3 separate regions of the Homo sapiens genome follow, and regions 1 and 3 are each linked to region 2. Evidence: fine-mapped expression QTL. A gene starts in region 2. Each other region holds a variant in brackets. All regions are shown on one strand. Distances are between the middles of the regions.

Region 1 (9,926 bases), 18 kb after region 2:
ATTTTGGTGGATAAAAGTAGGGGAAATTGTCCCTTTTCCTAGGCCTGGCAAATGAGAGAAGAGAGAAGCTTCTGTGCTTTTGGACATCTAACATTAATCCTCATTATTGGCTTCAAGTCAGTCTTCATTGCTGATGCATGTCTTCTTCCTGCACATGCTTCCTGTTTTCTTGTCCTGTTACTGCCCCTTCTCCGCCTTCCCTTTTAAGAGGCAGCAATGCGTGATGGCTGAATCCCACTCCACCCGCTCCCGGCAGACTATCTTCCTGTCCTTGCTGTAGCTGCCCCAGCTCTGGCTCTGTCCATCCCACTGTTCTTTCTCTCTCTGCTCACAGTGCTGGGGGAAAGATGGCAGGGCCAGAGTAATAAGAGAGGCAGAATCTGACAAAGATCTTATGAACATGCCAGACCAGAAGCAGAGAGGCCAGTGGAAGCACTCATTTCCCAGAAACTAGATTATTTCATTAGTGATTAACAAAATAAGAAATTGAATTATGAGAGCCAGGAACCTCATGCCCCCGGAGGAGCTCCAGGCCAGCTGAGCAGGTTGGGTGGGGGTAGGCGTGAAGGAGGAAAATGCTGTGGGATTTGTTTCTGTATCCTGCCCCCCAGGAGCAGTATAGTTGCCTCCTCCTCATTGTCCCCACTCTCCTACTCCTTTAAGGGCTGGTACTGGAAAGTGGAGATGGTGCCTTCCTGACATATGTGGTCCTCCTTCTTCATCTTTTTCTCCTTTCTTTCTCTTTCTTCCTTCTCCTTCTCCTCCTCTCTCCCCTCCCAACAAATCCTTGGGGTCAGCAAGGGGCTGGAGCCCAGGATGGAGTGTGTCTGTCATATTTGAGACTTTCACCCCAGCCCCAGGAGTTCCAGTCCCTGGGCCATGCCATTTAGCCATAACCGAGGGTAGAAGCTGGCAGATCCTGGAACAGAAGTGGATGTGGCAGCTGCTGGGTGATGGTGGGGACCCCTGTGGATAGTGAGCTGAGCCGTTTGGGTAATACTATCATGCTTTGTCTCCCCAGCTCTGGCATTGCCCGTGACCCCTCAGAAAGAATGGCTGCACATGGACACTGTCGAGCTGGAGAAGCTCCACTGGACCCAGGACTTGCCCCCTGTCCGGCGGCAGCAGACACAGGAGGTGAGGAGGGCCACCTGGCCTACAAGGGGTGGGTGAGATAGGGCAGGAGAGGAGCTGCTGCTCTTGCCCTCAGAACTCAGGCCTTTCTATTGCCCAGAGCCTGAGAAGCATCTCTCCTTTGCTCTCACCCACCTTTACCATCACTCTGCCTGGCCCCCAAGGCCAGATAAGCCCCATTTCTGGTAGAAGTAGAGTCAGTACCTAAGTCCTGAAAGGCCTGGGATTAAAGGTGGGGAGTGGGTGTGGGAAGGTTGCTGGAGCCCCCAGACCACAGTCCTCTTTCTCTTCCCATTAGAGGATGCAGGCTCGATTCAGTCTTCAGGGAGAACTACTGGCCCCTGACGTGGACCTGCCCACCCACCTGGGTCTGCACCACCATGGAGAGGAGGCAGAGGTGAGGCATGGGACTGGAGAGGATGGGGCAGCTCTTTTAACAACCCCATGGAAAAGGATCTCTGGTCAACTGCCTTTGACCTTCTGTGTGCCCTGTTCTAGTTCATGCCTTTGCTGTGCATTCAGTTTCTTTTTTTGGAGACAGAATCTCGCTCTGGCCCAGGCTGGAGTGCAGTGGTATGATCTTGGCTCACTGCAGCCTCCACCTCCTGGGTTCAAGCCATTCTCCTGCCTCAGCCTCCTGACTAGCTGGGATTACAGGCGCATGCCACCACGTCCAGCTAATTTTTGTATTTTTAGTAGAGACGGGGTTTCACCATGTTAGCCAGGATGGTCTTGATCTCCTGAGCTTGTGATCCGCCTGCCTCGGCCTCCCAAAGTGCTGGGATTACAGGCGTGGCATTCAGTTTCTTAGGCTCAAAATCTTGATCCTCTCTCCGTATTCTGGTCAGTTGCTAGAATTTGCCGATCTTCTGTCACCTCCTCATGATGCCTCCTGCACTGTGGCCTTGCTTCCTTGGTCTGCTCACTCTCCATGCCCTCCATTCTCCGCCCCCCTGCCATTCCATGTCTCTCGGGGCTGCTGTGCTGATTTCTTCTGGCCCAGCTCAGGCCATGCCTTGCCTCCAGAAGTTTCCCAGCTTCCCTCTGCTCACAAAATAAGGTTCTGGTCTCAGCTGGGCAAGATATTCCTTCTACCTTTTGTCCCTGCTGACCCTGCTGCTCTGCCTCCTTCACTTCCTGCTACACCACTCTGCTGGCTTCTCCCCACATACCTCCTGTGCTCAGGGCCCTCCAGGACTCCACTCGCTCCAGGAAATGCCTTTGCCTTTTGCTCCATGTCAGGCCATCAAAGCTCTACCCATCCACTGAGACCAATTTAATTTTCCAGGTTCCCTTCTCTCTCTCTCCTGTCCGCCGGTCGCAAATTAAACATCAGTTATCACGTTCCTCTGCATCTGCCTCATGGCATGGTTACTTGTATGCAAGTCTTATCTTTACCGGCTTGAGGCTCCATGGAAAGCAGGGCAGATTTCACTTATTTATCTTTGTCTTTCCTGTGATACCTTGCTTGGTGTTTTGGGGGCACTGTGCTGTATCCTGGCTGCTTCTGACTTCTTGTCCCTGCCCCAGAGAGCGGGGTATTCCCTACAGGAGCTGTTCCACCTGACCCGCAGCCAGGTTTCCCAGCAGAGAGCACTGGCACTGCATGTGTTAGCCCAGGTCATCAGCAGGGTGAGTGGATTGCCAGCCTGGTCCTGCCCACCCTTCCCTTCACCCCACAGCCTCAGACTTCCCCATCTCCTGCCCTTTTCACTCTGGCTCACTAGCCAGCTATGTGCTTTTAACAACCTAGGATCATAGGGGGGCAAACGAAGGATTAGGGCAAAGCCTCTAGATAACTTCAGCATCTTCAGCAAGGTTTTACCCTCCTGCCCTCAGGCCCAGGCTGGTGAGTTTGGGGACCGGCTAGCAGGCAGTGTCTTAAGCCTCCTTTTGGATGCTGGTTTCCTCTTCCTACTGCGCTTCTCCTTGGATGACAGAGTGGATGGGGTCATTGCAACCGCCATCCGTGCTCTTCGGGCTCTGCTGGTGGCTCCTGGAGATGAGGTACCACAGGGATAGGAATGGGGCTTGGGCTGGGAGGTGCCAGGGTCCATATTCCTGTTCCTGGGCATGGCCCCATTGCTAAGGCTTTGCGGGCAAGATGTAGAATGGGATGGCAGGCGTCTCCCTCATCTCCTAAAGTCCCTAAAGCCCAGGAGGCTTGCCTTTATGGTTTTTATTGGGGAGCATCCTCTCTACTCCTGGATCCATTTCCTGGCCCCTTCAGCATTGCCCCCCAACTCCCGTTCCTCTGGCAGGAGCTCCTCGACAGCACCTTCTCTTGGTACCATGGAGCTTTGACGTTCCCTCTGATGCCCAGCCAGGAGGACAAGGAGGATGAGGACGAGGATGAAGAATGCCCAGCAGGAAAAGCAAAAAGGAAAAGCCCTGAAGAAGAAAGCCGGCCTCCACCTGACCTGGCCCGACATGATGTCATCAAGGTAAAGGGACAGCTTCTTTCCCATCCCATGGCCCAGGGGACAAGCACATGCTGGAAAGAGGGGCCATCAATGCCCAGGGTCCAGCTGCATTTGTCAGTGGGTTTCTCTCTCCAACTCCCAGGGGCTCCTGGCTACCAGCCTGCTGCCTCGGCTGCGCTACGTGCTGGAGGTGACATACCCAGGACCTGCGGTGGTCCTTGACATCCTGGCTGTGCTCATCCGCCTGGCCCGGCATTCCCTGGAATCAGCCACAAGGGTGAGAAAAAAGGGAGCAGGGAATGGGCAAAAAGCCTAGCTGGGCCTTGTCTTGACCCACAGCCTCCCTTCCTCCCTTTTACCTCCTGTCTCCCATAGGTCCTGGAGTGCCCTCGGCTGATAGAGACTATAGTTCGAGAGTTCTTGCCCACCAGTTGGTCTCCTGTGGGGGCAGGGCCTACCCCTAGTCTATACAAAGTACCCTGTGCTACTGCCATGAAACTACTTCGTGTCCTGGCCTCAGCTGGGAGGAATATTGCTGCCCGGCTGGTGAGCAGGACACAGGGCAAGGGATGGGGGAATGCATGGGACAGGGTTGGGTTGGGAGCTAAACATGGCTCCTGAACTCTGGGTGGCCAGCTCTTGCCATCTTCTTCCTCTCTGATCCAGTTGCTTAGAAATGCAACAGAAATCACCAGGCATGAACCTGTTTACTGGAGCCTGTTTACTGGAGCCTGGTGCATCATATAGGTATACTGTGGTCTCATGATGTAATAGGAGGTCTCCCTGTTCCCTAGACCCAGATCAGAAGGGCTTCATGCACATAGGCATTCATCATCTATAGCCAAGTAGCCCTAGAGAAGGTGCCCAGCAAGCCTTGCTATAAAGAGGGAGGGCTGGGTGTAGTGGCTCAGGCCTGTAATCCCAGCACTTTGGGAGGCCAAGGCAGGAGGATCACTTGGGGCCAAGAGTTCAGGGGCCAGCCTGGACAACATAGCAAGACTCTGTCTCTACAAAAAACAAAAACAAAAAATTAGCTAGATGTGGTAGCACATGACTGTAGTCTCAGCTACTCGGTAGGCTGAGGTAGAAGGATCACTTGAGCTGGGAGGTGGAGGCTGCAGTGGGCTGGTTGCACCAATCACTGCACTACAGCCTAGGCAACAGGGCGAGACCCCGTCTCAAAAATACTACTACTGGCCAGGTGCAGTGGCTCACGCCTGTAATCACAACACTTTGGGAGACCGAGGTGGTGGATCACTTGAGGTCAGGAGTTCGAGACCAGCCTGGCCAATATGGCAAAACCCCACCTCTACTAAAACTACAAAAATTAGCCAGGTATAATAGTGTGCGCCTGTAGTCCCAGCTACTTGGGAGGCTGAGGCAGGAGAATTGCTTGAACCCGGGAGATGGAGGGTGGAGTGAGCCAAGATCACACCACTGCATTCCAGCCTGGGTGGCAGAGCAAGATTCCATCTAAAAACAAATAATAGGGCCGGGCGCGGTGGCTCACACCTGTAATCCCAGCACTTTGGGAGGCCAAGGCAGGTGGATCATGAGGTCAGGAGTTCAAGACCAGCCTGACCAAGATGGTGAAACCCTGTCTCTACTAAAAATACAAAAAATTAGCCAGGCGTGGTGGCATGCGCCTGTAATCCCGGCTACTCCAGAGGCTGAGGCAGAGAATTGCTTAAACCTGGAGGGGCAGAGATTGCAGTGAGCCGAGATTGCGCCACTGCACTCCAGCCTGGGCGACAGAGCGAGACTCCATCTAAAAAAATAATAATAATAAAAATAAAAAAATAATAGGGGCTGGGTGCGGTGGCTCACACCTGTAATCCCAACGTTTTGGAAGGCCGAGGTGGGTGAATCACGAGGTCAGCAGTTCGACACCAGCCTGGCCAACATAATGAAACCCCGTCTCTACTAAAAATACAAAAATTAGTCGGGCATGGTGGCGCATGCCTGTAGTCCCAGCTACTTGGGAGGCTGAGGCAGGAGAGTCTCTTGAACCTGGGAGACAGAAGTTGTGGTGAGCCAAGATCACTCCACTGCACTCCAGCCAGGGCAACAGAGCAAGACTCCATCTCAAAATAATAATAAATAATAAAAAGTAAAATAATAAAATTGAAATTTTAAATAAATAATAAGAAGGAAGGGCAGGGTGGATGAGGTATGACTTTGTGGCACCAGAGGGGCCTGGGTCAGGGTTGAGTTAAGCCACTCTCTGTCCAGCTGAGAGTAGCTGGACTTGAGACTCACAGCTGACCCTGATCCTCAGACTGTGCCCATTTCCAGTTGAGCAGCTTTGATCTCCGGAGCCGCCTGTGCCGCATCATAGCTGAGGCTCCCCAAGAACTGGCCTTGCCCCCAGAGGAAGCTGAGATGCTGAGCACCGAGGCCCTCCGTCTGTGGGCTGTGGCTGCCTCCTATGGCCAGGGCGGTTACCTTTACAGGTGAGGAGAGGCAGGGGGTAGGCTCCCCCTAGACACCTTCAGTTCTGCTCTTCTGGCCAAATCAAACACCTCAGCCTTGCTCAAGGTCCCAAGCTTGGAGGAAGGATAAGAATGAGTGGGAGGGCTTCTGCCAGATGTGAAAAGGCTTAGGAGTCAGGCCCAGCCAGGGAAGAGGGGGATAAACCTGGCTTAACCGTATTCTATGCTCAAAATCATTAGCCGGGCACTGTGGCTCATGCCTGTAATCCCAGCACTTTGGGATGCCAAGGTAGGCGTATCACGAAGTCAGGAGTTCGAGACCATCCTGGCCAATATGGTGAAACCCCGTCTCTATTAAAAATACAAAAATTAGCCAGGCGTGGTGGCACACACCTGTAATCCCAACTACTCGGCAGGCTGAGGCAGGAGAACCGGTTTAACCTGGGAGGCAGAGGTTGCAGTGAGCCGAGATCACTCCATCACTCCACTGCACTCCAGCCTGGGCAACAGAGAATGTCTCAAAAAAAAAAAAAAAAAAGCATTGGTATCTGTGAAATCACATTTAAATTCCCTGTTGGGGGCAGCCTTGAAGGACAACATCCTTTCCATTCTTTAGGGCTGAGCCTTCCAAGAGTGCCCCACTCTTCCTCCTCATCCTCCTTTATCAAACTGCAGATCCCTGGGTCAGGGCCATGACCTGTGTCTCATGTCTCCACTTGCTTTCATACAGTGAAAATCAGTCCCTGTTCTTCCCTAGGGAGCTCTACCCAGTGCTGATGCGGGCCTTGCAGGTGGTGCCGCGGGAGCTCAGCACCCACCCACCTCAACCCCTGTCCATGCAGCGGATAGCCTCACTGCTCACTCTCCTCACCCAGCTAACCCTGGCAGCCGGCAGTACCCCTGCTGAAACCATCAGGTAGTTTATAGCCAGGACCCACAGGACAGGTGGAGGGCTCCTCCACAGGGCTGGGGTGGCTGGAGTGTAAAGGGGCGTGAGGCAGCCAGATCCTCACTGTGGC[A/C]CCCTTTGGCACTTTTGTAGTGATTCTGCTGAGGCCAGCCTCTCGGCCACCCCTTCCTTAGTCACTTGGACACAGGTGTCTGGGCTCCAGCCTCTTGTTGAGCCGTGTCTAAGGCAGACCTTGAAGTTGCTGTCCAGACCTGAGATGTGGAGAGCCGTGGGCCCAGTGCCCGTTGCCTGCCTGTTGTTCCTGGGAGCCTACTACCAGGCCTGGAGCCAGCAAGTGAGTGCCTCCTGCCGGCTGTCCACCAGGCCCCCGCACCCTGCCTTCAGCTACATTCCACCCGTTGCTCCCTCTCTGTGTCCATCTCTCCACTCCTACTTCCCCATTTACTATCTTCCCTTTTAATTCCTACCCTTCCTCCTCTTTCTACCTCCATATCCCCGTGGAGCTTCCCAGGAGCCATGTTGGTGGGGACCAGAGAGCCCACGCAGCAGCTCAGCCTTCCTGTAGCCTGTGTGCTCCCTCTTTATGCCCCCTACACATCGGGGCCTTCTCTCCCTTCAGAAGGCTCAGCCTGCAGAAGCCTCCAAATGTGCTCTTTTGGGCTGTTGGGATGGTGGCATTGGCCTGGGTACACAGGGTCTAGGAGAATGAATGGCTGGGCCATCAGCTCAGTGAATTCCTTGGTCCACCAGCCAAGCTCATGCCCGGAGGATTGGCTCCAGGACATGCAGCGCCTGTCAGAGGAGCTGCTGCTGCCACTGCTGAGTCAGCCCACACTGGGCAGCCTGTGGGATTCCCTTAGGTATGTACTGTGTTTGGTAGCTGGGGGAAGCAGGGGAGGAGGCAATTTCTTTCCTTGTGGGATTCCTGGGTCCAGCTCCCAGGTCCATCCCAGGGTGCAGGCCCTCGGCCCGAGGGAAACCCGAGTCCCTAGCAGGCAGCAGTGGGGTGGGCTCTGAGGAGTGTGAGCAGCACTGACCTCCACAGCCAGGCCCCCCGTTAGTCTTAGGTACAGACCCAGAAGCTCTTTCCAGCTTGGCACACGCCAGGCCAGAGTCCCCCTCAGACTCTCCACTTCACCTACAGGCACTGCTCCCTTCTCTGCAACCCGCTGTCCTGTGTGCCAGCCCTTGAAGCTCCCCCCAGCCTCGTGTCACTGGGCTGCTCGGGAGGCTGCCCCCGTCTCAGTCTGGCTGGCTCAGCCTCACCCTTCCCATTCCTCACTGCCCTCCTCTCTCTTCTTAATACCCTGGCCCAGATCCACAAGGGGCTGTGTGGCCAGGTAAGTGTGGGGTGCCTGATTAGGGGCCAGGCAAGGGGCCAAGATGGCAGGAATCAGAAAGAAAGTGGGAGGGTGGGATGGGCGCGGTGGCTCACGCCTGTAATCCCAGCAGTTTGGGAGGCCGAGGTGGGCAGATCACCTGAGGTCGGGAGTTCGAGACCAGCCTGGCCAACATGGAGAAACCCCATCTCTACTAAAAATACAAAATTAGCCAGGCATGATGGCACATGCCTGTAATCCCAGCTACTCGGGAGGCTGAGGCAGGAGAATCACTTGAACCCGGGAGGCGGAGGCTGCGGTGAGCTGAGATCACACCATTGCACTGCAGCCTGGGCAACAAGAGCGAAACTCCATCTCAAAAAAAACCAAAAAGAAAGTGGGAGGGTGTCCCATGGGGAAGGGAGGCCTTCTGCTGGCACTCATTTCCCTGAGTCTGGAGAGGGGCAGCCACCTGGGGAGCCCTAGAAGGCATGAGAGTCAATTTCTAGATCTGAACAAAATTGCTTTTCCTCAGCTGGCTGCCATATTGGCTGCCCCGGGACTCCAGAATTACTTCCTCCAGTGTGTGGCTCCTGGGGCTGCCCCACACCTCACACCTTTCTCTGCATGGGCCCTGCGCCATGAGTACCACCTGCAGTACCTGGCACTCGCTCTGGCCCAGAAAGCGGTAGGTCCCCCTGTCTGACAGGTTCTCCTGTCATCCCATTATCTCCTTCCTGTTTCTGTGGAACCCAGCCTGCTTCTGCCAGGCCATGCAGCTCCCACTTTCCTCCAGACATGCCCTGGACCTCTGCCCTTCAGCCTCACTTTTATCCTCTTCCTCACTTCTCTCTGCCACGTCCCCTTCTCCTGTACTAGGTAGTTCCCTGCTTTTCTGTCTGCAGGCAGCGCTGCAGCCACTGCCAGCCACCCATGCTGCCCTCTATCATGGTATGGCCTTGGCCCTGCTGAGCCGGCTGCTGCCCGGAAGTGAGTACCTCACCCATGAGCTGCTGCTGAGCTGTGTATTCCGGCTGGAGTTCCTCCCGTAAGTGCTTGGTTGGTGGCATCAACTCAGCCCTTTTGGACGCTGCTGCAGTTGTTAACAGAGCAGCCCTGAATTTGGAGCCAGGAGACCTAAATTCTCTTTCTTCCACCGACGACACTTAACTCTTCCGAGCTTCCATTACCTCATTAGTGAAGTGAGGATCAGGCTAACCACACCCAAGAATGATTGTGAGACTTCAGTGTGACTGCATGGCTAAAAAAATGGTATCTAAATCAGTTACACACATGTAATAGCCATCCGCTACTGAGTGTTTACTCTGTGTTTGATACTCCCTTATGTATTTATCTACATTTTAAGTATTTTACTTGGACCATGAGATAGATACTATTATTATCCTTATTTTACTCTGAGGAAACTGAGGCCCAGAGAAGTTATGTAAACTCATGCCTAGGCAGCTGGCTGTAGTGTGCATCCTCTTAACTGCTACACAGCACTGCGCGGGAAGTAGTTAAGGGAGCAGAGAGGCACAGGTCTGGACCTAGGAGCCTCCAGGAAGTTCCAAAGAGCTGGCACAGCCTCCAAGTGCTGTGGTTCCAGCCCTCATTTTTGGCTTTTGGGTCCCATTACAGGGAAAGAACATCAGGGGGTCCAGAGGCAGCCGACTTCTCTGACCAGCTGTCGTTAGGAAGCAGCAGGGTCCCT
Region 2 (9,953 bases):
CACCTGAGGTCAGGAGTTTGAGACCATCCTGGACAACATGGCGAAACCCCGTGTCTACTAAAAGTACAAAAATTAGCTAGGCGTGGTGGTGGGCACCTGTAATCCCTGCTACTTAGGAAGCTAAGGCAGGCGAATAGCTTGAACCCGGGAGGTGGAGGTTGCAGTGAGCTGAGATTGCACCATTGCACTCCAGCCTGGGCGACATGAGCGAGACTCCGTCTCAAAAAAAAAAAAATTCTTTTTAGCGACAAAGTCTCATTCTGTCACTGAGGCTGGGGTGCAGTTGTGCAAACAGCTTGCTGCAGCCTCACATTCCTGGGATCAAGCTATTCCCCCGCCGCTGCATCGCTAGGACTATAGGTGCCACCACACCCAGCTAATTAAAAAAAATTTTTTTTATAGAACAGGGTCTTCCTACGTTGCCCGGGCTGGTCTTGAATTCCTGGCCACAAGCAATACTCCTGCCTCAGCCTACCAAAGTGCTGAGATTATAAGCATGAGCCACCACACCCAGTCTTTGAAACAAAAAAACATAGTCTTACCCAATAAAAATTTCATAAATCCTCGCTGGGTGTGGTGGCATGCACCTGTGGTCCCAGCTACTTGGGAGGCTGAGGTGGGAGGATCACTTGAGCCTAGGAGGTCGAGGCTGCAGTGAGTCATGACAGCACCACTGCACTCCAGCCTCGGTGACAAAGCAAGACCCTATCTCAAAAAAAAAAAAAAGTAAATCCTTAATATCATACAAAATCTAGTTTATATTTAGTATTCCCTAACAGTCTCAAAAAAACAGTTTCAAAAATGAAGATATAAACAAAGACCGCATTTCATATGTTATAGTCTCTGCCCAGTGCAGTGGCTTACACTTGTAATCCCAGCATTTTGGGAGGCTGAGGTGGGCAAATCACCTGAGGTCAGGAGTTTGAGACCAGCCTGACCAACATGGTGAAACCCTGTCTCTACTAAAAATACAAAAATTGGCTGGACGCAGTGGCTCACGCCTGTAATCCCAGCACTTTGGGAGGCCGAGGTGGGTAGAACACCTGAAGTCAGGAGTATGAGACCAGCCTGGTCAACATGGTGAATTGAAACCTTGTCTCTACTCAAAATACAAAAATTAGCCGGGCATGGTGGCATGTGCCTGTAACCCCAGCTACCTGGGAGGCTGAGGCAAGATAATCACTTGAACCCAGGAGGCAGAGTTTGCAGTGAGCCGAGATCACACCATTGCCCTGCAGCTTGGCAACAAGAGCGAAACTCCGTCTCAAAAAAAAAAGAAAAAAGTTAGCCAGGTATGGTGGCACACGCCTGTAATCACAGCTACTTAGGAGGCTGAGGCAGGAGAACCACTTGAACCCAGGAGGCGGAGGCTGCAGTGAGCCGAGATCATGCCACTGCACTCCAGCCTGGGCAACAGAGCAAGACTCCATCTCAACAACATAAAATAAAATAAATAATAAATAAATAGTCTCGGCTGGTGCAGTGACTCATGCCTGTAATTCCAGCATTTTGGGAGGCTGCGGCGGGTGAGTCACTAGAGCCCAGGAGTTTGACACCAGACTAGGTGACATGGCAAAACCCTGTCACTACAAAAAATAAAAGAATTAGCCACGTTTGGTTCAGGCCTGTGATCCCAGCTATTCAGGAGGTTGAGGCAGGAGAATCGCTTGAGCTCAGCAAGCAGAGGGAAGCAGAGGTTGCAGTGAGCTGAGGTTGCACCACTGCACTCCAGCCTGGGCAACAGAGCAAGACCCTATCTCAAAACAGTAGAAAAGATTCATCAGTAAGTTCATATAATGGCAACCTGATCCATCCATATAAAGTCTGCATCAACCTTTCACCTAGTTGTTAAACAATGACTGTTAAAACTATTAGGTCAAAGGTTGATGAAGACTTTATATGAGGCTGGGTGTGTTTTCCAACCTTAGCAGGCACCAAAATTAAGTGGAAGGCTTGTTAAAACAGAATGCTGGAGCTGGGGATGGTGGCTTATGCCTATAGTCCCAGCATTTGGGAGGCCAGATCACCTGAGGTCAGGAGTTCGTGACCAACCTGGCCAACATGGTCCAACCGTGTCCCTACTAAAAATACAAAACTTAGCTGGGCGTGGTGGCACCATTGCCAGGAGCCATTATCTCGTTATTTCATTGCGAACAATTATTTTCTACTATCATTCATTCTGCATATTTGGCTCCAGTTCCTCTCCCTCATCCCGCTGCCTCCATAACTTCTGACCAGGTCTAGTACTATTTTGGACCTCAAGATGACTAAATCCTAGTAGCCGAAATTTACATCTGTAGTTGAAGCCAAGAGGATTATAGATCTGCTATAGTGCGGGACCAGCAGCATCACCTAGAAACTTGGTAGAAATACAAATTTTGGGGCTCTATTAGAAACCTACTGAATCGGCTGGGCACGGTGGCTCACGCCTGTAATCCCAGCACTTTGGGAGGCCAAGGCGGGCAGATCACGAGGTCAGGAGATGGAGACCATCCTGGCTAACACGGTGAAACCCTGTCTCTACTAAAAATACAAAAAAGTAGCCCGGCATGGTGACAGGTGCCTGTAGTCCCAGCTACTCAGGAGGCTGAGGCAGGAGAATGGTGTGAACCCGGGAGGTGCAGGTTGCAGTGAGCTGAGACTGCGCCAGTGCACTCCAGCCTGGGCGACAGAGCGAGACTCTGTCACAAAAAAAAAGGAAACCTACTGAAACAGGCCAGGTGCAGTAGCTCATGCCTGTAATCCCAGCACTTTAGGAAGCTGACGTAGGTGGATCACCTGAGGTCAGGAGCTCGAGACCAGCCTGGCCAACATGGTGAAACCCCGTCTCTACTAAAAATACAAAAATTAGCTGGGCATGGTGGCGGGCGCCTGTAATCCCAGCTACTCGGGAGGCTGAGGCAGGAGAATCACTTGAACCCAGGAGGAGGTTGCAGTGTGCCGAGATCATGCTATTGCACTCCAGCCTGGGCGACAAGAGCAAGACTCCGTCTTAAAAAAAAAAAAAGAAAGAAAAAGAAAAACCTACTGAATCAGAAACTCAGAGGTTGAGGCCCAGCAATCTGTTTCGTTTTGTTTGAAACAGAGTCTGGCTCTGTGGCCCAATCTGGAGTGCAGTGGTTCCATCTTGGCTCACTGCAACCTCCGCTTCCCAGGTTCAAGTGATTCTCCTGGCTCAGCCTCTTGAGTAGCTGGGACTACAGATGGACACCACCATGCCCTGCTAATTTTTATATTTTTAGTAGAGATGGGGTTTCACCATGTTGGTCAGGCTGGTCTCGAACTCCTGACCTTAGGTGATCTGCCAGCTTCAGCCTCCCAAAGTACTGGGATTATAGGCATGTGCCACTGTGCCTGGCCCCAGCAATCTGGTTTAACAAGACTTCCAGTTGATTCTGGTGCCTGTTAAAGTTGGAAAGCCACTGGACTAACATTGGCTGCCCCATGATGTCCTTTGGTCTAGAAATGATTTACTTAAGGTCCTACTATGTGCATGGCAACACGTTGGGTGCTCAGTATTTAGATGCAAAGTACAAGGTCTGGTGCCCACAAGGAACTGACAGTCTATTCAAGGGAACAGGACATAAGCCTGTGAAAAGGTAACCGGTGACAGTTGGTAGTTGGCAGTGTGTTCTTAGCATACCACACAACTGGTGCAGGCGGTGAGATTCCAGGTGAATCCAAGGAAAGTTTGGTGAGTAGGCGTGGCTGGCAGAGGTTTTAGAGTTGACGCCAGCTAGGCCTTAAAGAGTTATCCTTTGGAGACAGGGGTGGCAGGGAAAAGAGGGAGGATTTCCAAGAAGGGAGAGTGGGATGAACAAAGGCAAGATTCTGGAGAAGATGATAACCTTGCTAGCAAGGAAGCTTTATTCCCTCTCTTCTCACCACCACTATTTCTGCAGTGCACACTGGCAGTGTTCTTTCCTTGGGCCTTTTTCATGGTTACCTTCTAGCTCTTCCATAAACACATTCGTCACGTTGGGGTGTGTGTGTGTGTCCACGTTTCTGTGTGCTGCCGTGGGCGTGGGTGCTGGGATGTGGGATGTGGTAACACTGGCTGGTGAGTGCAGAGGGACGTCTGAGGAACGCTGTGTCCCTGCCAGGGGTGTCGTAAGTGCAGAAGGGGCTGTGCCTGCTGTACATCAGAAGCATGTGTGGGCCAGGCGCGGTGGCACATCCTGTAATCACAGCACTTTGGGGGGCCGAGGCGGGCGGATTACCTAAGGTCGGGAGTTCGAGACCAGCTTGGCCAACATGGTGAAACCCCGTCTCTACTAAAAATACAAAAATTAGCCAGACGTGGTGGCGGGCACCTGTAATCCCAGCTACTCGGGAGGCTGAGGCACAAGAATCGCTTGAGCCCGGGAGGCGGAGGTTGCAGTGAGCCGAGATTGCGCCACAGCACTCCAGCCTGTGCGACAGAGCAAGACTCTGTCTCAAAAAAAAAAAAAAAAAAAAAGGATGTGTGTTCTGGGTGATGGTATAGAGCTTACGTGGGGGTAATAAACCGCCAGCCGCGCAGCACCGCGCTCACCAGTCCGCTGCACTGAACAAGCAAAGCCCAGAATGCTCCGAGATAAGACCGGGAGAGGCGGGGCTGGGCTGCGGGGCGGAAGCTGGAATCTGGCGGCGGCGGAAACGCGATCTCTGCGGGGCAAGATGGCGGCGCCCAGACAGGCCTGGAGCACGTAGGTGGCGGGGCTGGAGGGACGGATTTCAGGTGATCTGGGAGGAGGACCCAGGGTAGCGTGTCCAGTTTCTTTGCTGGAACCTGCCTGCGGGCCTTTGGTCTGTAAGGGAGCAACTGTGGCCTCCTCTGTGCATAGATCTCGGGCACGGCCCTTCAACGGGCGGCGAAAGCTGCGACTCGATGATTCCTCATTGTAGAGTTGGGTGGTCCAGGAGGCTTAACTGGAGCCCTTGACCTGAGCGGTAAGGGCAGTCACGCGTCCCGACTCGGGATTGGATCCTGGCTCTGGAGGATAGGCTGCAATGTAAGAGCCCCAGAGACTCCTCAGAGGCCAACATAAACCCAGAGGTCCATTGTTAGGACTACTTTTTTTTACGAGTTACTCTTTAGGCATTACTCTTTAGGATTACAGGCGTGAGCCACCGCGCCCGGCCAACCCATTCTTATTCTATTAATAACTGAAAATGTTATCACTTCTAGCACTGATTGGTTCTGGACAAATCTGCGCTGGATTTGTGGGGAAACACACTGGTGGCTTTACTTAGGACTAAAATAATTGTTACTGAGGTTTATTTATATAAGTAACAGGCACTGGGCTAGGCGTTTTGCGTGTATAGTCATTTAAATCCTCACACATTTCCTATTATATAGGACCTGTTACTCACATTTTACAGTTGTGGAAATGGGACTTAAGACAGCATAGAGGCCGCGCACGGTGGCTCACGCCTGTAATCCCAGCACTTTGGGAGGCCGAGGCGGGCGGGTCACCTGAGATCAGGAGTTCGAGACCAGTCTGGCCAACATGGTGAAACCCCGTCTGTACTAAAAAAATACAAAAAATTAGCCGGGCGTGGTGGCAGGCGCCTGTAATCCCAGCTACTCGGGAGCCTGAGGCAGGAGAATCACTTGAACCCAGGAGGCGGAGGTTGCAGTGTGCCGAGATCGTGCTATTGCACTCCAGCCTGGGCAACAAGAGGGAGAATCTGTCTCAAAAAAAAAAAAAAAAAAAAAAAAAGGACAGCATTGATAATTTGCCTAATTTCGCACATTTAGTGCATTTAGTAAGTAGCGGAACTGGTATTTGACTTCTGGCCTATTGATTCCAAAACTGGTGCCCATAACCCCCTGGCTCTCTTTGTGATGTAGGTATGGCGCACCCTATGAAGTGAGCTGGACTTTGCTTTTGGATCACATGAATCCATGGATAAGTAGGAATTGTTTCTGCTTATGTAGACTCTTATAGGAGTGAATTGTTACCATACTATGGATTCTCAGTTCATCTAGTTCAGCCTTCCTTAGGGCCTTTGGGTAGGCATTGGGGTAGGAGACTTTTTCCTTGTTTGTTGGTCAGACTGCCCAACAATTAGATATGGTTATCTGCCCTTTGGCTATATAAATAATAAGAATCATAACTGGCGTTTGTGTCCTTTCATGTATGAGACTCTGTTCTAATCTTCTTACATATATATAATTAATTCAGGAGGTAGGTACAGTTATCTTCATGTTACAGATGAGGAAACAAGCACAGTAACTTCAGTAAAATACCTTGCTTAAGCTTACACAGTTAGTAAATGGCAGAGCCTGGATTTGAACACAGGCAGTCCATTTTCATACTGTTTACCTCCCATCCAGGAAAAGGCACATCTGTATACTTCGCTGTTGTCATGCTACAAATAGTAATTAATACAAGTTCTATGCCAAATTTAAGATGAAATTTTGTAGACAGGTCTTTGCTCACTTCATCCACTTCCTTCAGTTCTCTACTTATCTAAGTTTTCTCTTTCAATATTGACCTCTATTTTTAACCTTTAGGGATTTTTCCCACCTCTGAAATCGTGTAGCACTGATCTTCTATGCAATTAATTTCATCACTGGGATGTACTGCCTTGTAAATTTATATGTGTGTTTACCATATTCTCTCACCCCAACTTTGGGTACATCATTGACCAAAGGAAGACCTTTACAATCTTGGAGACATCATTTAAACTGTAAACCTTTGGAATTTCTAGACTTGTGTGGGCAAAGAGAGATAATGAAGTGGGAAATTATTAAAAGACCCAGCATTTCGGCATGGTCTCTGTCTCCCCAGTAAGCCCCTTGAACCCAGGGACTGGATTTTACTCCCATTTCTTTATATTTACAGCCCCTTGTACACCGCTCAGCCCAGAGTAAACTCTCAAAAAATTTTTTGATAATGTTCTTAAGGTCACACCGTCATGTGATTGTTTCACCATTTCTACCCCTTTAGCCTGCCCCCAACCCCTGTGTTGGGAGGTGTTTCCAAGGCTGGCTTAGTTATTAGATCTGATCCTGCTTAGAAGTAGATGAAGAAAAAGTAAGGAAATGTGTCATTCAGCACTTTTTTTTTGAGACAGAGTCTCATGCTCTGTCCCCCAGGCTGGAGTGCAGTGGCACGATCTTGGCTCATTGCAACCTCCACTTCCCGGGTTCACGCCATTCTCCTGCCTCAGCCTCCCCAGTAGCTGGGACTACAGGCGCGTGCTACCACACCCAGCTAATTTTTTGTATTTTTAGTAGAGACGGCATTTCACCGTGTTAGCCAGGATGGTCTCGATCTTCTGACCTCGTGATCTGCCTGCCTTGGCCTCCCAAAGTGCTGGGATTACAGGCGTGAGCCAGCACACCCGGCCTTCATTCAGCACTATTGTTAGTTCCAGCTATCTAGCTTGTCTACCTCTCCATCTCATCCTCCTTCAACTTTTAGGAGGTGGTCAACTTCATCATGTTCTCCCATGTACCATATTTATTCCCTGCTTTTTTTTTTTTTTTTTTCAAGATGGAGTCTAGCTCTGTCACCCAAGCTGGAGGGCAGTGGTGTAATCTTGGCTCACTGCAACCTCCACCTCCTGGGTTCAAACCGTTCTCCTGCCTCAGCCTCCCAAGTAGCTGGGAGTACAGGCACATGCCACCACGCCTGCCTAATTTTTTTGTATTTTTAGTAGAGATGGGGTTTCACCATGTTGGCCAAGCTGGTCTTGAACTCCTGACCTCAGATGATCCACCCACCTCAGCCTCAAAGTGCTGGGATTACAGGTGTGAGCCACTGCGCCCGGCCCTATTCCCTGCTTCTATACCTTTGCCCAGCTCTCCCTTCTGGCTGGAGGCCTATCTTATCCTTCAAGGTCTGGTTCAGTGGTTTTCAACTGGGGGTGATTTTTTTCTGAGGTGACATTTGGCAATGTCTGCAGACATTTTTACTTGTCACAACTAGGGGAGGAGGTTTGATGATGACGTCTAGTGGGTAAAAGCCAGGAATGCCGCTAAACATCCTACAGTGCGCAGGACAGCTTCCCACAGCAAAGAATTACCCAGCTATAAAGATCAATAGTCCCTATTGAGAAACCTTAGTGTAGTTGCAGCCTTTGCTCTTCAGGAGATTCTTTATAGTTCTTCCCCATCTGCCTCACTATTCCAGACTTCCAGGACACCCAGGCACCACACAGCAGTAGGCAGTAGAACATAGTGGGTAAGAGCATGGACTGACTGGGATTGAATCCTAATCCTAGCACACACTTACACTGAGACCTTGAGCAAATACTTAACTTCTCAGCACTATTCTTTTCTCAGCTGTAAAATTTGAATAATAGTAGTAACTGGCCCGTTGCAGTGGCTCACGCCTGTAATCCCAGCACTTTGGGAGGCAGAGGCGGGCAGATCACCTGAGGTCGGGAGTTCGAGACCAGCCTGACCAACATGGAGAAACCCAGTCTCTACTAAAAATACAAAATTAGCTGGGCGTGGTGGCACATGCCTATAATCCCAGCTACTAGGGAGACTGAGGCAGGAGAATCGCTTGAACCTGGGAGGCGGAGGTTGCAGTGAGCCGAGATCGTGCCATTGCACTCCAGCCTGGGCAACAAGAGTGAAACTCCATCTCAAAAAAAAAAAAAATAGTAGTAACCTACCTCCTAGGCTGTTATGAGGATTAAATGAATGAATATGGAAAAAGTGCTTAGAGAACAGTATGTGGTGCATACTAAGTGCTCAATAAGTGTTAGATATAACAATATTTTTATTATTATCAGCATCTAGCTCAGGGGTTCCAAAACTAGCCAGCCAGCTTGCAGATATCTTTGGCCAGCCCAGCGTTTTTTGTTTTATAATTGATTTATAGTTTATATACCACAGAAGTCATCATTTTATTTTATTATTATTATTTTTTTGAGACGGAGTCTCACTCTGTCGCCCAGGCTGGAGTGCAGTGGTACGATCTTGGCTCACTGCAGCCTCCGCCTCCCAGGTTCAAGTGATTCTTCTGCCTCAGCCTCCTGAGTAGCTAGGATTACAGGCACCTGCCACCACACCCGGCTAATTTTTTTTGTATTTTTAGTAGAGACTTCACCATGTTGGTCAGGCTGGTTTGAACTCCTGACCTCGTGAGCCACCTGTCTCAGCCTCCCAAAGTGCTGGGATTACTGATGTGAGCCACCGAGCCTGGCCAGAATTCATCATTTTAAAAGTTTACAGGCCAGGTGCAGTAGCTCAGGCCTGTAATCCCAGTACTTTGGGAGCCCAAGGTGGGCAGATTTCTTGAGCCCAGGAGATCGAGACCAGCCTGTACAACATGGTGAAATCCTGTCTCTGTAAAAAACACAAAAATTGTGGGGCACGGTGGCTCACGCCTGTAATCCCAGCACTTTGGGAGGCCAAGGCAGGTGGATCATGAGGTCAGGAGTTCGAGATCAGCCTGACCAACATGGTGAAACCCTGTCTCTACTGAAAAACTACAAAAAATTAGCCAGGCATGGTGGTGGGCGCCTGTAATCCCAGCTACTCAGGAGGCTGAGGCAGGAGAATCACTTGAACCTAGGAGTCAGAGGTTGCAGTGAGCCGAGATCGCGCCATTGCACGCCAGCCTGGGCAACAAGAGCAAAACTCCGTCTCAAAAAACAAAAAACAAAAAACAAAAAAAAAAACAAAAATTAGCTGAGTGTGGTGGTGCATCTGTAGTCCTAGCTTTTTGGGAGACTGAGGTGGGAGGACGGCTTAAGCCCAGGAGGTAGAGGTTGCAGTGAGCCAAGATCACGCTACTGCACTCCAGCCTGGGTGACAGAGCCAGACTCTGTCACAATAAATTAATAAAGTTTACAATTCATGGCTTTTAGTATATTCACAAGGTTGAACATTTTCATTACTCCAAAAAGACGCTCCATACCCATTAGCTGTCAATTCCCATTTCCCTCCAGCTCTCCTAGCCCCTGGCAACTACTAATCTACTTTCTGTCTCTATGGATTTGCCTAT
Region 3 (9,953 bases), 35 kb after region 2:
TAGGGACCTCGCTGCCCACACGCCCCTCCCTTTCCTCCTCTGGCGTCCTGGGGTCTGAGGTGGGCGTGGCCAGACCAGCTTTAGGTCCGGGGAGTGTCTCGCCAGCGGCAGCACACCCCTGTAAGTGGTGGCCAGGGCTGCCGTGGCAAAATGAGCTGTCAACTTTAGGTTGACAGGGGTGTGGCCGCGACCGCAAGGGCTTTTGTTGCCGGGTGGACCCAACAGGGATGGGCTGCTGGGGACAGCTGCTGGTGTGGTTCGGAGCCGCGGGTAAGTGCTATCTGGCGGTCAGGGGACCGTCCAGCCTGAGGCACTTTCCTAGGCTTGGGGGTGGCCGGTCAACAGGCCAGGTGTCAGTGGTTCCTCCAGAGGCCTCGAACTCTCACAGCCAAATTTCTCCGGTCCGTGCTTCTGGAGTGCGGGCCGAGAAGCGCCAAGTGCGTGCGAATCCCAGAGTCTGGATCACGCAGCTTGGGAAGGAGGAACATTCTTTGGGGTCTCAGCACCGCCTTGGGGCGGGGCCACCAATCTAAGTTGAGGAAAGCATTGGGGAGGCTGCAGGACCAAATTCATTGCGGCCCCTAAGTTATTCACTGGGAAAGGCGCTCGAGGAGAGAAACTGGCAGACCTATCAGCGCGCACCCGCGGGGCTTCTGCGACCGGAGTCGGGTAGTGGCTTCCAGGCTGAGAGCGCGGCTGGGCCGGGTGACGGGTGTGGCCGCGACCGCAAGGGCAGCTGTTGCGGGGTTCTCTCTTTCTTTCATATCCTATTTCCACCCGCCTTAACGTCCTGCGCCTTCTCCCAACACCTTTCAGGCGCCATTCTCTGCTCTAGCCCGGGGTCCCAGGAGACTTTTCTGCGGTCCTCGCCCCTGCCGCTGGCAAGTCCCAGCCCCCGGGACCCGAAAGTCAGCGCCCCGCCTAGTATCTTGGAGCCAGCCTCCCCGCTGAATTCTCCGGGTGAGCTTTAGACGCCTCCTTCCTCTTTCGCTCACCATACCAGACCCCTCTGGCCCAGCCAGGGGCTCGACGACCCTTGCCTCGCTCCTTGCTCTCAGGCACCGAGGGGTCTTGGCTGTTTTCTACCTGCGGGGCCAGCGGCCGGCATGGGCCCACACAGACACAATGTGACGGGGCGTACGCGGGGACCAGCGTGGTGGTGACCGTGGGGGCCGCCGGGCAGCTGAGAGGCGTGCAGCTGTGGCGCGTGCCGGGCCCTGGCCAGTATCTGTAAGTGCACGGCGGAGGTAGGGTGGACAGTGACCTGCTAGTTGGAGGTTTCACCCTCAGGGTAACGAAGTCCACGTGCGCACCGACTTGCGTCTTGGACTATTCCGCGGGGAGGTCCACCTTGAGTGCCCTTCAAGGTGGCAGTAGTCGCCACCGAGTTAGCCCTTACCCGGAACCTCTTACACCGAGCGGAAGGCCCCCAACCAGGGCGGCGCCAAGGGGTGCTTGAGCCTCCCCACATTTCCACGAACCCTCCTGAAATAAGTGTAATATCTGATTTTTCGGTGTGCAAACCTACCCTTCCCATCCCGTCAGAGTCGATTGCAGCCTCCAAGTCCCTCAGATAAAAAATAATTCTGGAGCCTCCTCTGTCGCCAACTTCTGCCCGGAGCGGCCGGCCTGAGCACCGAAGGCCGGGGACTCACCGTCCGTTCCCCGCAGGATCTCAGCCTACGGAGCCGCGGGCGGCAAAGGCGCCAAGAACCACCTGTCGCGGGCGCATGGCGTCTTCGTCTCAGCAATCTTCTCCCTCGGTCTCGGGGAGTCGCTGTACATCCTGGTGGGGCAGCAGGGAGAGGACGCCTGTCCCGGAGTGAGCGCAGCCAGTGGGGATGGGGCGGCGCCGGCGCCGGGGGCGAGGGCTGCCTGGGGGCCGGGGGAGCGTGCTTTCCTCGGTGCCGGGTCACCAGCACAGCGAGGGGAGGCTCCCGGGCCCCGCCGATTCCCTCCCCCGCTGCCCGCAGGGTAGCCCGGAGAGCCAGCTCGTCTGCCTCGGGGAGTCTCGAGCCGTTGAAGAGCACGCGGCGATGGATGGGAGCGAAGGGGTCCCGGGGTCGCGGCGCTGGGCGGGAGGTGGCGGGGGTGGCGGGGGCGCCACCTACGTTTTCCGGGTACGTGCTCCCTTCGGCGCTCAGCGTTGGGGTCCCAATCCTCTCCCCAGGGGCGCTCACGCACCGGCTCTCCGTCCGTCCCTTGGGGTCCCCCTATCCCTGCGCTGGGCTGGGCTGGCCTGGGCTGGGCTGGGGGCCCCTGCCCTTATCCAGGCCCCCTGGGCGGGAGCCCTCTCCCAGTGGCAGTGCCCCTGGACAGCTGGAGGGCGCTTCCTGGAACACGCCGCTGGCCCCACAGGTGCGCGCTGGCGAGCTGGAACCGTTGCTGGTGGCGGCCGGAGGCGGCGGTCGGGCCTACCTGAGGCCGCGGGACCGAGGCCGGACTCAGGCCTCCCCCGAGAAACTGGAGAACCGCTCGGAGGCGCCCGGGAGCGGCGGGAGAGGCGGGGCGGCAGGTGAGGGCGCGGGCCGCGGGGAGAGGCGGGCGTGCTCCCCGTGTGGCTGCCAACCTTCCTGCTGTCGCTCTGCAGGTGGTGGGGGCGGCTGGACGTCGCGGGCTCCCTCTCCGCAGGCCGGCCGCTCACTGCAGGAGGGGGCGGAGGGCGGCCAGGGCTGCTCCGAGGCTTGGGCGACCCTTGGCTGGGCCGCGGCCGGCGGCTTCGGGGGCGGCGGCGGGGCCTGCACTGCGGGCGGAGGCGGCGGCGGCTACAGGGGTAGGTGCACCGTTGGAGAGGGCAGCTGAGCAGGCCCGAGGGTGAGGTGATGTTAGAACCTAAGTACAGGCCGGAGCCCTCGGGAGGATAGGTGTGGGAGAGGCATTAAGCCCTGCTCAGCAGCTCCAAACAAAAAGCAGGAGCTCTTAGAAAAGGAGGTCAAATACACTGCAAATCAGCATGCAGACAGGACTCCCTAGATTTCCGTTTAATCCAGGATCTTTCCCATCACAGCAGGTCCCTGCCTTGTTCTGCAGCAGTCTTCAGAACTTAGAGCTGGCCGAGTGAGCAAGCTGAGCAAAGGGGCAGAAAGGCAGGATTGGGTTAAGTCAGTGGTTCTCAAAGTGTGGTCCAGGAACAGGTAATATCCCCACAACCTAAGTTGTTCGAAATGCACATTATCAGCTGGGCCTGGTGGCTCACGCCTGTAATTCTAGCACTCTGGGAGGCCAAGGCAGGTGGATCACCTGAGGTCACCAGTTCGAGACCAGTCTGGCCAACCTGTGAAACCCTGTCTGTACTAAAAATACAAAAATTAGCCGGGCGTGGTGGCGGGAGCCTGTAATCCCAGCTACTCTGGAGGCTGAGGCAGGAGAATTGCTTGAACCTGGGAGGCGGAGGTTGCAGTGAGCCGAGATCACTCCATTGCACTTCAGCCTGGGCGACAAGAGGGAAATTCTGTCTCAAAGATTAAAAAAAAAACAATGGAAATTATCCTGGGAGTTGGGGGAAGGTTGGGGAGATGCTGGTCAAAACAATGCAAAATGGCAGTTAAATAGGAGGAATACCTTCCAGAATCTACTGTACTACATGGTGACTGTAGTTAATGACGATGTATTCTTGAAAATCGCTAAGAGAGGCGGGGCGCGGTGGCTCACGCCTGTAATCTCAACACTTTGGGCGGCGGAGGCGGGTGGATCTTGAGGTCAGGAGTTTGAGGCCAGCCTGGCCAATATGGTGAAACCCCCATCTGTACTAAAAATACAAAAATTAGCCGGGCGTGGTGGCATATGCCTGTAGTCCCAGCTACTCGGGAAGCTGAGACAGGAAAATCGCTTGAACCCGGGAGGCGGAGGTTGCAGTGAGCCAAGATCGTGCCACTGCACTCCAGCCTGGGTGACAGAGCAAGACTCTGTCTCAAAAAAAAAGAAAAGAAAATTGGTAAGAGCGTAGATTATAGGTGTTCTTACCACAGAAAATAAGCATGTGAGGTGGTGTATATATTGGTTTGCATTAGCCATTGCACAGTGTGTACATATTTCAAAACATCATGCTGTATACAATAAATATATGAATTTTTTTTTTAGATGGAGTCTGGCTCTGTTGCCCAGGCTGGAGTGCAGTAGTACAAATCTCAGCTCACTGCAACCTCCGCCTCCCGGGTTCAAGCAATTCTCCTGCCTCAGCCTCCTGAGTAGCTGGGATTATAGGCATGCGCCACCATGCCCGGCTAATTTTTGTATTTTTAGTAGAGATGGGGTTTCACCATGTTGGTCAGGCTAGTCTCGGACTCCTGACCTCGTAATCCGCCCATGTCGGCCTCCCAAAGTGCTGGGATTACAGGCGTGAGCCACCACACCTGGCCCTGAATTTTTATTTTTAATTAAAAATTAATTTTTAAAAAGAAATGCGAATTCTCAGCCCTTCTCTAACATACTGAATCAGAAACTGTAAGGGAGAGTCCCAGTCATCTGTGTTTTGATCAAATAACTAGTGTAAATGCCTTTGTGCCTGTCTGGGCTGTACTGCTCATACATACACACATGATCTACATTCTCACAGAAAGGGACTGTGAGGACATGGGACAGGAGGGGCTCAGGCAGGCAGGAGGCATCCCAGCCAGCCTCAG[C/A]GAGGCCTTCAGGCTCCAGCTGATTACCCCCTCCTCACCTCCTTCACTCCCACTTGTGAACAGACAGCATTTGCATCATGATGCTGGAGAAGAGAGGGCCACACTGGGATTTCCACCGGGAGATTCCAGCTTCTCCCCCATCCCCCATTTTTGTAGTCAAACTCTCCATCACTCTCCACTTCCAGGGGGCGACGCTTCAGAGACTGACAACCTCTGGGCTGATGGGGAAGATGGAGTATCCTTCATACACCCCAGCAGCGAGCTCTTCCTGCAGCCTCTGGCAGGTATTGGCCCCAACCCCACCTCTGAGCCTGGCCTGGACTTCTTCCGCAGTCCCTGAGCCCACTCCTGCACTGCACTGAAGAGCCACCTGCACTGTGAATAACCTTGCATAGCACAGGATTCTTGCATAGCATAGGGTCATTTGAAAAGTGGGCTGTCATCATGCCATTGCACTCCAGCCTGGGCGACAAGAGCAAAACTCTGTCTTAAAAAAAAGGAAAGTGGGCTGCCAGTCGTGCTGGATGGCAATGCAGGGCATGCTGCGTGCTTTTCAAGTACCCCCTTGCTATGAATTCGCTTCAAATACCTGGGAGTGTGCAGGCTTGACAGAAGTCCCCCAGCTTCTCTCACCACCCTTGTAAGCTTGGTGCTGCTCTTTGCTCTAAAGTCCTGGGCTAGAATTAACCATGTGGCTGGAAAAGGCATGTATTTATTTATTTATTTATTTATTTATTTATTTATTTATTTTTATTTTTGAGACAGAGTCTCGCTCTGTCACCCAGGCTGGAGTGCAGTGGTGCGATCTTGGGTCACTGCAACCTCCGCCTCCCGGGTTCAAGTGATTCTGCAGCCTCAGTGCTGGAGTAGCTGGGATTGCAGGCGTGCGCCACCACACCCGGCTAATTTTGTATTTTTAGTAGAGGCGGGGTTGGCCAGGCTGGTCTTGAACTTCTGACCTCCGGTGATCCGCTCACCACGGCCTCCCAAAGTGCAATGATTATAGGCGTGTGCCACTGTACCCAGCCAAAGGCATGTATTTACTATATCCCAGCCCTACCACACCATATCATATCAGTTCTTTTACTCACAGTCACCGAGAACCACGGAGAGGTAGAGATCCGAAGGCACCTCAACTGCAGTCACTGCCCTTTGAGAGACTGCCAATGGCAGGCAGAGCTCCAGCTGGCTGAATGCCTGTGCCCAGAAGGCATGGAGCTAGCTGTGGATAACGTCACCTGCATGGGTATGTCCTACCTTTGCCCAAGGTCTGGACTCCTGGGGTCACAGACTGGGAGGAGCAGTAGGCCACTGGGAAAGATGGTATAGAGATTTGCTGTGTGCCAGGCCCTGTGGTGGGTGCTGGGCAGGGGATTGGAGATTCATCGGTGCACAGTGCCTTTCAGAGGCCTGTCGTCCAGTGTGGGAGGATGTTTAGATATAGCTATGTAAATGTATATCTCAAGTGACGATTGTTGTGGGAGGTATAAAGTGCTTTAGGGGTGTTCAAGAGGGAGAGGTTGCTTTTGCCCAGGATAATGGGGGAAGGCATCATGGAAAAATTAACACTTGAGCTGAGTCTTGAAGCGTGGGTAAAACTTGAGGGTAAAGGAACAGAGAAGACCTTCCCACTGGAGGTGTCTCTCTTTCTCCCTAGACCTGCACAAGCCCCCAGGCCCTCTGGTTCTGATGGTGGCTGTGGTGGCAACCTCAACACTGAGCCTCCTTATGGTGTGTGGGGTCCTGATTCTGGGTACGAAGCGTCTAGCAGGCACAGTTGATTCAAGGCTGCTCCTCTCCAGTGAGCTGGGATGGGTTTCTGCGGGGTCCCGGGGCTGACTTCAAGACCACTCACCGCAGCAGAGCCGTGGTAGACTCCTCTGGGATTCTAAGATAGGAAGGAGCTGGGGAGGCCTGGGGAAAACGTTTACCTTAATGAGCATCTGGAGGGGTGTCCTGGGCAGGTGGGGGAGGGAGAGTTGATGGGCAGGTGGAGGGTGTGCCGTTATTCTTCCCACCCCCAGTGAAGCAGAAGAAGTGGCAGGGCCTGCAGGAGATGAGGCTGCCGAGCCCTGAGCTTGAGCTGAGCAAGCTTCGAACCTCTGCCATCAGGACAGCCCCCAATCCCTATTATTGCCAGGTGGGGCTTGGCCCGGCCCAGTCCTGGCCTCTGCCACCAGGTGTCACCGAGGTTTCCCCAGCCAATGTTACTCTGCTCAGGTAAGTCTTCTGCCTCCTTCTGAGAACCTATGCACTCTGAATCCCCACCTCTGATTCTCTCCCTGCTGTAGTGAATTATAAGTCCCAGAAAAAATCTGGCCCACATCCCTTGTGTAAGGGAGAGGGAGGCCCTGAGAAGCTCCAGAAGGGGAAGTAACTTGCTCAATGTCACCTCTCCGTCCCAGTTCTTAGAATATGATCTCTCAGCTGGGCGTGGTGGCTCACACCTGTAATCCCAGAACTTTGGGAGGTCGAGGCAGGCAGGTCACCTGAGGTCGGGAGTTCGAGACCAGCCTGACCAACATGGAGAAACCCCATCTCTACTAAAAATACAAAATTAGCTGGGCATGGTGGCGCATGCCTGTAATCCCAGCTACGTGGGAGGCTGAGGCAGAAGAATCACTTGAACCTGGGAGGCGGAGGTTGTGGTGAGCCGAGATTGCGCCATTGCACTCCAGCCAGGGCGACAGAGTGAGACTCTGTCTCAATAAAAAAAAAATATGATCTGGCGCCTGTAATCTCAGCACTTTGGGAGGCCAAGGCAGGTGGATCACCTGAGGTCAGGGGTTCGAGACCAGCCTGGCCAACATGGTGAAACCCTGTGTCTACTAAAAACACAAAAAATAGCTGGGCGTTGTGGCGCTTGCCTGTAGTCCCAGCTACTCGGGAGACTGAGGCAGGAGAATCACTTGAACCCGAGAGGCAGAGGTTGCAGTGAGCCGAGATCGCGCTATTGCACTCCAGCCTGCATGACAGAGTGAGACTTCGTTTAAAAAAGAAAAAAAATCATGACTCTTGGAGCCCAGGGATTGCCTCCCGCCCAGGGCGTCTGCAGGGACCAGGGAAGTCCTCATCATGCACTCCCACCTTGACTCTGGCCCGCATCTGCCCTCTTTTTTGCCCTGGCTCTATGCCAGTGAGCACCACCCTTGCAGGGCTTCTACCTGGGGACATGCCATGGTATGGAGAGAGTCTATATAGGGTCAGCTGGGCATATGGCAGGGGCAGGGGAGGTAAAGGGGGTACTAGACTCTCTAGGACTCTTCTCCAGGCCGCCTGCCCACTCCCTTCCAACGTGTCTTCCTGCAGAGCCCTGGGCCATGGTGCCTTTGGGGAGGTGTATGAGGGACTGGTAATTGGCCTTCCTGGGGACTCCAGTCCCCTGCAGGTAGCTATCAAGGTGAGAGGAGTGGGACTTCTGGCTGGGGGTAGGAGAGCGGAACACCCTGAAGGGAAGGACAATGACTAGAGCTAGGGTTAACCCCCTCTCCTGAAGCGTGCAGGGCAGCTCAGAAACTGTGCCCTTTTCCTCCCCAGACCCTGCCAGAACTCTGCTCGCCTCAGGATGAGCTGGATTTCCTCATGGAGGCCCTCATCATCAGGTGCACCTGGGACCAGGGGCAGGGCTGGAAGGCGGGAGGGGAATGCCCGGGAACAGTTTCTCTTCACCCTGAGGCTGAGGTAGCAAGTCAGGGGACACAGAGGGCCTCTCCAGCTTTGTGGAGCCTAAAACATGGTTTCCGTCTCCCTCCTGGTAACGGGATATGTCCCCCACCCCACTCAGCAAGTTTCGCCATCAGAACATTGTGCGGTGTGTGGGGCTCAGCCTCAGGGCCACCCCTCGCCTCATTCTGCTGGAACTGATGTCTGGAGGGGACATGAAGAGTTTCCTGAGGCACAGTCGGCCACACCTGGTGAGACCCTTGTCTTAGCCCCCCCAGGCCCCTCTAAAGACCCTGTCCATGTGTCTGAGACCTACATGGACTGATGCCCCCTCTGCCTGACCCAGGGCCAGCCATCACCTCTGGTCATGCGGGACCTGCTGCAACTGGCCCAGGACATAGCCCAGGGCTGCCACTACCTGGAGGAAAATCACTTCATCCACAGGTTAGGAGCAGTCCTGGCTCAGGGGACCCCCATCCCAACTCCCTCCCCAAGGAACAGCCCTTCCACACAGCTTTTAAGGAAATAGATCAGGAAGAGCAAGAACTTCTAGATTCTGGCAGTGATTTTTTTTGCCTACTCTGTAGGGATATTGCCGCCCGGAACTGCCTGCTGAGCTGCGCTGGACCCAGCCGAGTGGCCAAGATTGGGGACTTTGGGATGGCACGAGATATCTACCGGTGCGGGACTTGGGAGGTGGGAAGGCTCTTGCTCCAAGGGGGTTTTCCCCGCACCTTGGTGGTGAACAACTCATCATTCACCTCCTCCCTCCTGTAGGGCCAGTTATTACCGCAGGGGGGACCGGGCCTTGCTCCCAGTCAAGTGGATGCCCCCAGAGGCCTTCCTGGAGGGCATCTTCACATCCAAGACAGATTCCTGGTGATAACACCCTTCCCCTCCCCTTCCCCACTGTTCCCCTCCCCTGAGGCTAATCCTGTCCTTTCCAGCCACCTCATGTGAGGGGAGGCTACACCTGACGGGCCTCACTTGGTTCCCCCACTTGTGATGCAGGTCTTTTGGGGTGCTGCTCTGGGAGATCTTCTCACTGGGCTACATGCCCTATCCTGGGCGCACCAACCAGGAGGTGCTGGACTTCGTCGTTGGAGGAGGCCGGATGGACCCTCCTAGGGGCTGCCCAGGGCCTGTGTGAGTTGAGTGCTGCCCGGGAAGGGAGGTCCTTCACAACCATGGGTGGGCATGAACTCCTGCCTCTCCCCAGGTACCGCATCATGACCCAGTGTTGGCAGCACGAGCCTGAGCTCCGCCCTAGCTTTGCCAGCATCTTGGAGCGTCTGCAGTACTGCACTCAGGTGTGCCCCCGACCTAATCTAACATCCTGGTCTTGTGGGTCAGGAGGGAGGGCCAGAAAACTCTATGCCCCCCTGCTCCCTGACTCTTCCATTACAGGACCCGGATGTGCTGAATTCACTCCTGCCAATGGAGCTGGGGCCCACCCCAGAGGAGGAAGGGACTTCTGGGCTGGGGAACAGATCTTTGGAGTGCCTAAGACCCCCACAGCCCCAGGAACTGAGTCCAGAGAAGTTGAAAAGCTGGGGAGGTAGCCCTCTTGGCCCCTGGCTGTCCTCTGGCCTCAAGCCCCTCAAATCCAGGGGCCTCCAACCTCAGAACCTTTGGAATCCCACTTATCGCTCCTGAGCCCCAAGGGGC

What was found. PIP is the estimated chance that this variant, and not a neighbour inherited with it, causes the effect. A credible set is the group of variants that fine-mapping cannot tell apart.
Region 1: its variant is the best candidate, but not a certain one, in a credible set for the expression of RPAP1 in hippocampus (GTEx, PIP 0.83).
Region 3: its variant is the best candidate, but not a certain one, in a credible set for the expression of RPAP1 in cerebral cortex (GTEx, PIP 0.86).

Annotation. Positions count from the first base shown.
Region 1 is chr15:41,521,075-41,531,000 of GRCh38, reverse strand. It overlaps RPAP1 (RNA polymerase II associated protein 1), which reads left to right. Exons shown (of 25, transcript NM_015540.4): 8 at 1,022-1,137; 9 at 1,433-1,531; 10 at 2,665-2,766; 11 at 2,974-3,141; 12 at 3,396-3,578; 13 at 3,700-3,834; 14 at 3,933-4,103; 15 at 5,853-6,010; 16 at 6,747-6,905; 17 at 7,029-7,230; 18 at 7,647-7,756; 19 at 8,041-8,236; 20 at 8,751-8,903; 21 at 9,121-9,263; 1 more. Among named protein-coding and RNA genes, the nearest start is that of LTK, 12 kb to the right of the region's middle. The variant A/C (reference allele first, on the strand shown) is at 7,009.
Region 2 is chr15:41,538,954-41,548,906 of GRCh38, reverse strand. It overlaps RPAP1 (RNA polymerase II associated protein 1), which reads left to right and starts at 4,650. Exons shown (of 25, transcript NM_015540.4): 1 at 4,650-4,688. RefSeq lists enhancers at 4,506-4,895, 4,829-5,410 and a silencer at 5,890-6,090.
Region 3 is chr15:41,503,984-41,513,936 of GRCh38, reverse strand. LTK (leukocyte receptor tyrosine kinase) reads left to right here and starts at 110. Exons shown (of 20, transcript NM_002344.6): 1 at 110-270; 2 at 817-960; 3 at 1,059-1,230; 4 at 1,672-1,822; 5 at 1,974-2,120; 6 at 2,359-2,515; 7 at 2,591-2,773; 8 at 4,808-4,906; 9 at 5,716-5,868; 10 at 6,280-6,375; 11 at 6,647-6,842; 12 at 7,932-8,022; 13 at 8,160-8,224; 14 at 8,407-8,536; 6 more. The coding sequence starts at 228. The coding sequence ends at 9,941. RefSeq lists a silencer at 745-824 and an enhancer at 531-1,278. The variant C/A (reference allele first, on the strand shown) is at 4,623.